2 linked regions of the Homo sapiens genome follow. The protein of the gene in region 2 binds, or shares a complex with, the protein of the main gene of each other region. Each region holds a gene or a part of one and is shown on either strand. Other genes may lie near its edges.

Evidence for each region.
Region 1: the proteins of CRH (region 2) and CRHR1 are in contact, whole or in part, in a cryo-EM structure (PDB 6P9X), measured with the Homo sapiens proteins. Residues at the interface, in NP_000747.1 of Homo sapiens: Glu156, Pro157, Pro158, Ile159, Ser160, Leu161, Asp162, Leu163, Thr164, Phe165, His166, Leu167, Leu168, Arg169, Glu170, Leu172, Met174, Arg176; in NP_004373.2 of Homo sapiens: Lys113, Tyr116, His117, Ala119, Val120, Asn123, Trp169, Val172, Gln173, Met176, Ser177, Pro178, His181, Thr192, Tyr195, Asn196, His199, Phe203, Phe260, Gly261, Lys262, Tyr267, Tyr272, Gln273, Met276, Ile277, Leu280, Tyr327, Phe330, Phe331.

Annotation. Positions count from the first base shown.
Region 1 is NC_000017.11:45,815,078-45,819,191, reverse strand, and holds part of CRHR1 (corticotropin-releasing factor receptor 1 isoform 2 precursor), read right to left. Parts: intron 2,730-4,114; coding exon 2,610-2,729; intron 1-2,609. Other genes in the region: LINC02210-CRHR1 (CRHR1-IT1-CRHR1 protein), read right to left, coding at 2,610-2,633.
Region 2 is NC_000008.11:66,177,157-66,180,756, forward strand, and holds the start of CRH (corticoliberin preproprotein), read right to left. Parts: upstream 1,309-3,600; 5' UTR 1,137-1,308; intron 336-1,136; 5' UTR 322-335; coding exon 1-321. UniProt on the Homo sapiens protein: Hormone regulating the release of corticotropin from pituitary gland. Induces NLRP6 in intestinal epithelial cells, hence may influence gut microbiota profile.

The sequences.
Region 1 (4,114 bases), on a different chromosome or scaffold from region 2:
GTTATTTTTATTATTATTGTCTTGGAGCTGTATTTATATAACCTTACGTGAGACTCAGAGCGTGTCCCTTGTCCCCATCAAAGGGTACCGGTGGATATTGTGGGAGGAGCCCCTTTGCTCAACACCCTTGCCCCCCTTGACATGTGGGGGAGAGTCAGGAGTCCCATCAGAGGCTGGGTCACCCAGAGGGAGCAGGCTTTGATGGGGAGAAAGGAGGTGATCCGAAAGAAAGCAGGCCCAACAAGCAGGGAGCCGTTGCCAGGGAGGATGCGACCTCCTTGTCTTTAATTGCTGAGCTGAGCAGTCCTCCCAAAGAATCACGGGAAAATAGATATTTTTGGAAATGCTTCCCATCCCTTTGAAGATCAGATGCAGCAGGAGGGAGGGCATTAGGGAGAAGGCCTAGAAGTCCTGGCAGCAACTCATCAGTAAATGGATTAATTAGTGCTTAATGATGAGGTGCAGCTCTGGGTACCCACTTGTGACTGACTGCACGGGCGTGCTCCACCTCATCTGGCGCTGGAGGCACCTGGAAAGGGGTCTTCCAGCCCTGCCCTCACAGACTGACCCCATGTCGAGAGGCCATCACCCCAGCTCCTTTCCTGGGATCACAGAGGGAAGTGCGGGGGAGCCTAGAGAGCACCACACTCAATCCTCCCACCCATTCTGCAGGTGTAGAAACTGAGGCCCACAGAAGGTCTGTGCCAAGGGCTACTTAACCAGCTGCAGATGCAGCTGGAATGAGAACTTAGGACTCCTGACTGCCACTTCAGGCAGGGCCAGCAAGTGAAGTGTGTGCCCAGGCACTGAGGGCTGAAAATGTTTATCTGGAGCATGTCAAGTAACCCTTTGCAACGGGAGCAGAGGGAACTCATGGGGGGTGGCCAGGGCTGGCTGCAAAAGGTGACAGGGCCATGACCACAGACAGCCTGGCCGGCCCCACCCAGCAGCCTGAACACGGAGGCCACACAAGAGTGGGTTCCAAGTGAAGGAGTGACCAACTCAGATCTGAAACCTGAGGCTGGGCGGTGGCGCTGGGGAGTGGGGGCAGGTAGGCCCAGACACGAGGATCACTCTGGAAGTGGACATGACAGGAACTGGTGCCTCCTCCTGGAAGCTCCTCTGATGTGCAGATGCTGCCTCCTTCCTAGGGGCTCCAGAAGGACTCAGCCCCCAGCATCGTGAGAGTTATCGTCCCTGGGCTGTGACCCTGCCTCCAGGCTCTGCGACCTCCGATAGGTTATTAGCCTCTCTGTGCCTCAATTTCCTTATTACAAAATGGGCCTGACTATATTGGGGGCTGGCCAACTGTGCACCCCTTGGACTGACCTGGCCAAGAGGCCCTTCTTCCTTTCTGCACTTCCTCCCCTTGGCCCCCAAGCCCCTCCCAGTGTGTCTTCTCCCTCTCCCGAGTCCCTCCCATGGCCAGGACATGGTACAGACACACGAGGCTGCTAGATCTGGCTGCCCCAGCCTCCTGCCCTGCCCTGGCCTCCCAAGTCACTCCCTGGGGAGTCACTTTCTGGCTGGGTCTTCCTACTCCTCTGCTGTAGCCCCCAACCTTAACACCCCAAATCCATCTGGTAGAGGAAAGAGGGGCAGGAGAAGGAATCTGGGAGTTTTGAGCTGGAAGACATCTTAGAAGCCAAGCCATCCAGCCCTCTCCATCCTCAGATGAGGGGCTGAGGGCCAGATGAGGGGCAACAATGTGCTGGGAGGTCACACAGTGAGTCTTGGAGTAAACTACATGGTGTCTGGGCTCACCCCTGTGCCCTCTTGGGACTCTGAGTTCAAGACCACAAGGACCCAAGGGTGCACACAGGAGGCCCCAATTGCAGGGATCAGGCCCCCAGCCTCCCCTCAGGTAGGTTAGGGCTCCTGGCCCACAGCTGTTGCTCTCTTGATAAGCAGGGACCTGACTCATTGACAGGGGAGAGCAAATTAATTCTGAGAGTGGCAGGCGGAATAGCAGGGAGCTGCAAAGCCCGGCTCTGGGGGTTTCGGGCCTCCGGGGAGCCAGGTGTTTACATGAGGATCAAGTATCCGACGGACCCTGGGTCAACCCCGTCCTGCCCCACTCCACCTACAAATCCAGGATGCAAGTTGAGCCTGTGCCTGTGCATCTGAAACTCTGGGTCCCCTGCCTCCTGGCTGGAGGGCCCGGGGTAGGCCTCAGAACCTCTCGACTCAAGGTTCTTATCCACACAGCTGGGGCTCTGATGATTCCTGCCCTGCTTCATGGTATTACAGTAGGCTCAAACAGACTAACCTGAAGTTTAATGGCAGAAGAAAGTGCCAGACAGACGTGGATGCAAATTCCAGCTTCACCCCTTACCAGCTGCCAATGGGGCAAGTTCCCTAACCTCCCTGAGCCCCAGGGGCCTTAGTTATAGGAGGCGTGATAGTGTCTTGCAAGGGTATTGTGAGAATCACGAGTAATGAGCACAGGGCACCCAGGAGAATACAGCGCTGACCTTTGGAAAACAGGGGCGATCCCCACAAGAGGTATTACTGTTATTGTCATCGTCATTCTTCCTTCCCCCACCTCCAAGCTCTCCCCATCCTGTCCCACCTCCCAGCAGATGGTCCACCCTCCACTTCTTCCTTACTTGTGGTATTGTAGCGGACACCATAGAAAAAGGCAGGGCAGGGCCGAACCACTAGCTGCCCCGCAGGGCTGCGGGGCCAGCAGGTGCCAATGAGGTCCACGGATGCGTTGCACTGCAGTCCTGGGGGCAGAGACGGCTGGTAAGGCACAGCAAGATATCCGGCCAAGGCCCCAGGCAGGCAGAGGACATTCCAGAGTTCTGCCCACCTCCCCACTCGTTCCCACTCACACCAGCTAGGGACAGGATGACAACAATGACCAGTGCAGAAATGAGCTCATCCTATGCAAAGAAGACACAAGGGGAAGAAATCTGAATCTGATGCTATGGTACTAGGGAGCCAGCATGGGTTCCAGAGCAGAGGAGGAAGAGAGATGGCTGGAGGTGGTGTTAAAAGCTAAGGTCCTGGCATTTAGAGGAAGCCTGGGCATGCTTCTGGTCCCCTGCTCTGTAGCCTAAGGACACTTCTCTTGGTCCCTCGCATGGTGACAGCCTGGAGCTCTGAGACATCACAGGAACACCCTGGAACAGACCCATCCAATCATTGACCTAGCCCCTCACGTCTCTGCAATCAAACCACATCTACCCTGGCCCTGCAGGGAAGAATCAGCTAAATGAAGTTGGCCCTCCTTCCGGCTGGCCTGTTCCTTCTTCCGGCTGGCCTGTTAACCACACTTACTGACCATACGTCACGTGTACTTTGTTCTGTGCAGGGCCCTAGGACAGGACTGATGGAGAAGTGAGCTATGGAGAGGAAAGGGAGGGAGACACCATCTGGGGGAGTGGAAAGGACACACTGAACTGGGAGTCTGGGCCCACTGCTTCAGAATGGGCTGTGCCACTAATTTGCTGTGAGATCATAGGCAAGTCACTTGCCCTCTCTGGGCCTTAGTGTCTTGTCTTCATCTATAATAAAATCAAGTGGTTGAACCAGATCAGAAATTCTTAATCTCAGCCCACTGGAAACTTCAACAGTTCACAGAGACCCTGAATGTAATGAAAATATTGGTGTATACATGCATTTTAATGGGGAAATGGGCCCACGGCTTTCATTAGATTCTCAAAGGGGTCTGTGACTCAAAGAGATATAAACATCTGAACTAGAAAGAAGATGTCAAAGTCCCCTTCCAAATATTTGCTTTTTGGAGGAGAGAGAGAGAGCACGCGAGAGAGAGAGGATGTTGGGGCAGAGTTGAGGCCCAGTGACACTTCAGGAGGGGAGGGTGGATATGGCCTCCAAAGGGTGGGGGCTGGCACAGTCCTGGCACCCCCCTGAGGCTGCCCCTTCTTTCTCTGCCTTTTAGTGCCTCCCTCTGAGTGAGGCTGGCACACCAGTCCTTTTGAGCCCCAGTGTCCCCAGGTTAATAACCTAGAATTGGCACAAGAGTGGACAGACAAGCCACGGAGGGCCAGGAACCATGAACCAGCGCGTGTGGGGGCAGCCTCTTCAGGCCTGGGCCGAGGCCTTAGCAGCTGCCAAGCCCTGGCTGGGGCTGCCTGCCATCTCC
Region 2 (3,600 bases):
CGCCTGTTCCGGCGAAGGGCGGCTGCCGCTGCCTCCGGCGAGGAGCGAGGAGGCGGGCGAAAGGGGAGCGGCCGGGCTCTTGTTGAGGTTCCCCAGGCGGAGGAAGTACTCCTCTCCCATGCGGAGCAGGACCGGCCGAGCCTGCGGCTGCTGGGGCTGCTCGGACTGCGGCGGCGGCTGGAAGAAATCCAAGGGCTGAGGGTGCTGCGGCGCCTGCCGAGCTCCCGGGACCGGCCCGCGGCTCAGGAGCGCCCTGCATGGCGGGCAGGGCAGGAGAGCCACCAGCAGGACTCCCGCGGACACAAGCAGCGGCAGCCGCATGTTAGGGGCACTCGCTGCGGCACAGAGGTGGGCGGAGGGCGGAATGAGAGAGGGGAAGAGAGAAAGAAAGAGTTGGTTAGAGTTCGCTCAGCTGGGAGGTGCACACGGGGTCTTCCTACGGGACTGCCTTAGACGTGCTGGGCTTTGGCCTCAGTGATTCGGATGGGCGCTGTCCGCGGTGCTGAAGCGCCTGGGGAGCGGGGAAAGGGGGCGCCTGCAGGGCTCCGCACCTAAGCTCATGCGCTCACCGGCCAGGAGTGACCCTTCTTTCTAGACTCTGAAAGGACGGTCCCTGCGTCCTCTTCCTAACGATCCTCAAAACTAATTTTCCCGATCCTAGAGAAGAGCCACAGATTTAAGATCCCACCCGCGCTGACTACCTCCCTTCCGGATATTTCAGCATTTTCTTCCAAATTGAGAACTACTGCCTCATGGTCCTCCCTCTCCACTTCTGCCCTTGCTGCCTTATCTCGGGGGTTAGGATAGAAGGGGGTGGGGGAGCTCCTTTACACAGCCAGCAAGGAGCAACTGGCAGCACGGGTAACGAAGAGCAGCCGTCTAAGTTTGCTTTTGCCACATCCCAGCTACTATTGTAATCTTAAGGAATAGTCCGCGAACACGCGCGCACACACACACGCACGCACGCGCGCATACACACACACACATACGCATACACACATGCATACACACACACACACGCACGCACACACATGCATACACACGTACACAGGCAGGGGCAGCCGGCTCCGCGGCGCACATCGCGGCAGCTCAGGCAACGCAAAGTTGGTGGCGTGTTCCGTCCAGGCGCTCCCTACCTTCCCAGGCGCTTCGCAGGTGAGCCGGGTGCTGCCGCCTCTCTGCAGAGAGACGTCTCCGGGGGCTTTCTCTGGAGGTTGTCTTCCTTTCTCTTTACTGTTCCCACTCTCTTTTTCTTTCTCTCCTCTCTTTCCCCTCAGTCTCTCAATGGACTTGGTCTCTGAGTTTCTCCACTCCAGAGCCTGGAGTGGGATTTTATAGTGTCGACCCTCTTCAAAAACCACGCAGCATTTGCCTAATAAGCTGACGCTCTCTTGACAGCTCGATTGCGTGCTGCCTCTGCTCCTGCATAAATCATAGGGCCCTGCCAAGGAACGAGGGGCAGAATTTTGCTATCTCAACACTGAATCTCACATCCAATTATATCAACAGATATTTATCGCCTCTTGGTGACGTCAACGAGCCCTAAAATGGAAGGGCTTCTTATGACTTGTCCATTGACAAAAATTCTTGAATGAGATTTCCCAAGTGTGAAAACATATTGACCTCTTACTATGAAAGGCCATATTAGGGGTGTGCAAAGAGACAGCGAATGGGAGGAGGAAGGGGAAGTGGGAAGGAAGTGAGGTGTCCCAGTGCAGCCCTGCCAGGAAAGCAGCAGCCAGTTGGAGGGGGTGGACCTGGATGCCCCTTCTCCTAACCTCCCTGACCAGGTGTCTCTGACAACACCTCAGTATCTGGAAATATCCCTTTGCTAGAGACAGAGTCCCACCATCTTTCTGCCTGGAAAAGAATGAAGCATCAGGAGAGGGGTGTGCAGGAACATCCAGCTTTTAAACGTCTATCTGCTTTTTCCTCCCAAGAGCAAGCACATAAAGGAGTTATGAGCCTGCAGAAGCAAGGCCAATAAATCTCTCAAAATGCAGTTCAAGTTTTTTAGATGATGACAAGAGCTACTCCCATAGTGAAGGGGCACAAACCGGGGTTAGTAAGGGGTGCGGCAAAGATTTTAGGTTATCTCAGAAACTCTCTGCTCCTTTTTTTGTCTCTCTTCTCACAATCTAAAATTAATTGTGGACTCCCTTTTCTATTCCCAAATTAAAGAGAGAGGCGGCCAGTGAGAGATGCATGAGTTAAACAAGCTTTACTTATTCTACTGAATGCAAACTCAATGAGAGGCATCCATTCTAACTTCCTAATCTATGTTGAAAAAGGCTTAAACTGCTTGACTACAGGGCTAAATTCATTAGTTACATGTTTTCATTGGTCAATATTGAGTCTGTAAAAAAAAACTCGTTCATTTCACCTCCAAATACTATCAACATCCATAATAGTATCCACATCTGGGCCACCCAGGGTGGTTCTTTTTAATTATTTCTTTTTCCAAATCCAAATGTGCTTCATGTCAGCCTGTTAAATAAATAAATGCTCTCTGACATGTCGCAGAATGGAATGGAATGCTAAGCCTGTAAAACTATATTCAATTTTTGATTAATTGACACTATCATATAGGTGGGAGGCAGTTACCTCTAATTCTGCAATTCAAAATGCAATTCCAAGTTCTTGTGCCTGTGATTCAATTCAGCTTCCAGATAACCATCAGAGTTGTTTATCGGAAATTTCCTGCTCCTCATTTCTGATTACTTCTGCTGCTTCCTTTGTAGCTAATGTGACAAATGATGCAATGCATATTTCAACTTCCATTTTGGGTCTATACCAATCCACAACTGCTCTTAGGAACAAAGGGAAGGCAGGGAGAGAAATGTTGACAGTTTGCAGAGAAGCCAGCCCATAGTTGGATCACTGCACCATGTTATGTACTTTTGACATAAGAGAACAGAGAGAATGTGCCTACTTGGAAAGATGTGAGTTGTTAATAGAAGATCATGATTATGGAAAATGGTTGAGTTTCTGGGAGAAAGCTGTGTTTTATATTGGTAGGAAAGCACACAGAACCTTAGATTTTGTTATTGTGGGCTTTTTTTTTTTTTATTAAGCTGGAATGGGTTCAACATTTTTGCTTACTTTCCTTTATGAACTGTTTTCTGACCCTGTTAGCAGATTTCAGCTTGGATGTCAATCTGGAGGTGAAACGTTGACTTGGAATAGGAAGTTTCAGTGCAGTAAATGGACACAGAAGATAAACTAGGAAAGGGATGTGGTTATGAGTTTAGCTGGGGAGGTCTGGGAGGTTCTTCCAGAGAAGACACAACAAGTTTTGGGCTCTGACTAAACCCATGCCCATACAAATCTCTCTCCCATTGGGCTATCTGGGGGATATTGTTTTAGTATAGCTCCCTCATCACTGTTGAGTCCTTGCTGTGAGGTTTTCTTGGGGTAAGTCATTAATAGAGCCAAAGTGGCTCCAACTAGGGAGTAAGGAAAAAAATGTTCCTGAACCCCAGAGGAAGAGAAGCTATGCACAGCCACAATTTATCTGTATTTGTCTGTTCTCACACTGCTAATAAAGACATACCTGAGACTGGGTAATTTATAAAGGAAAGCAGTTTAATGGACTCACAT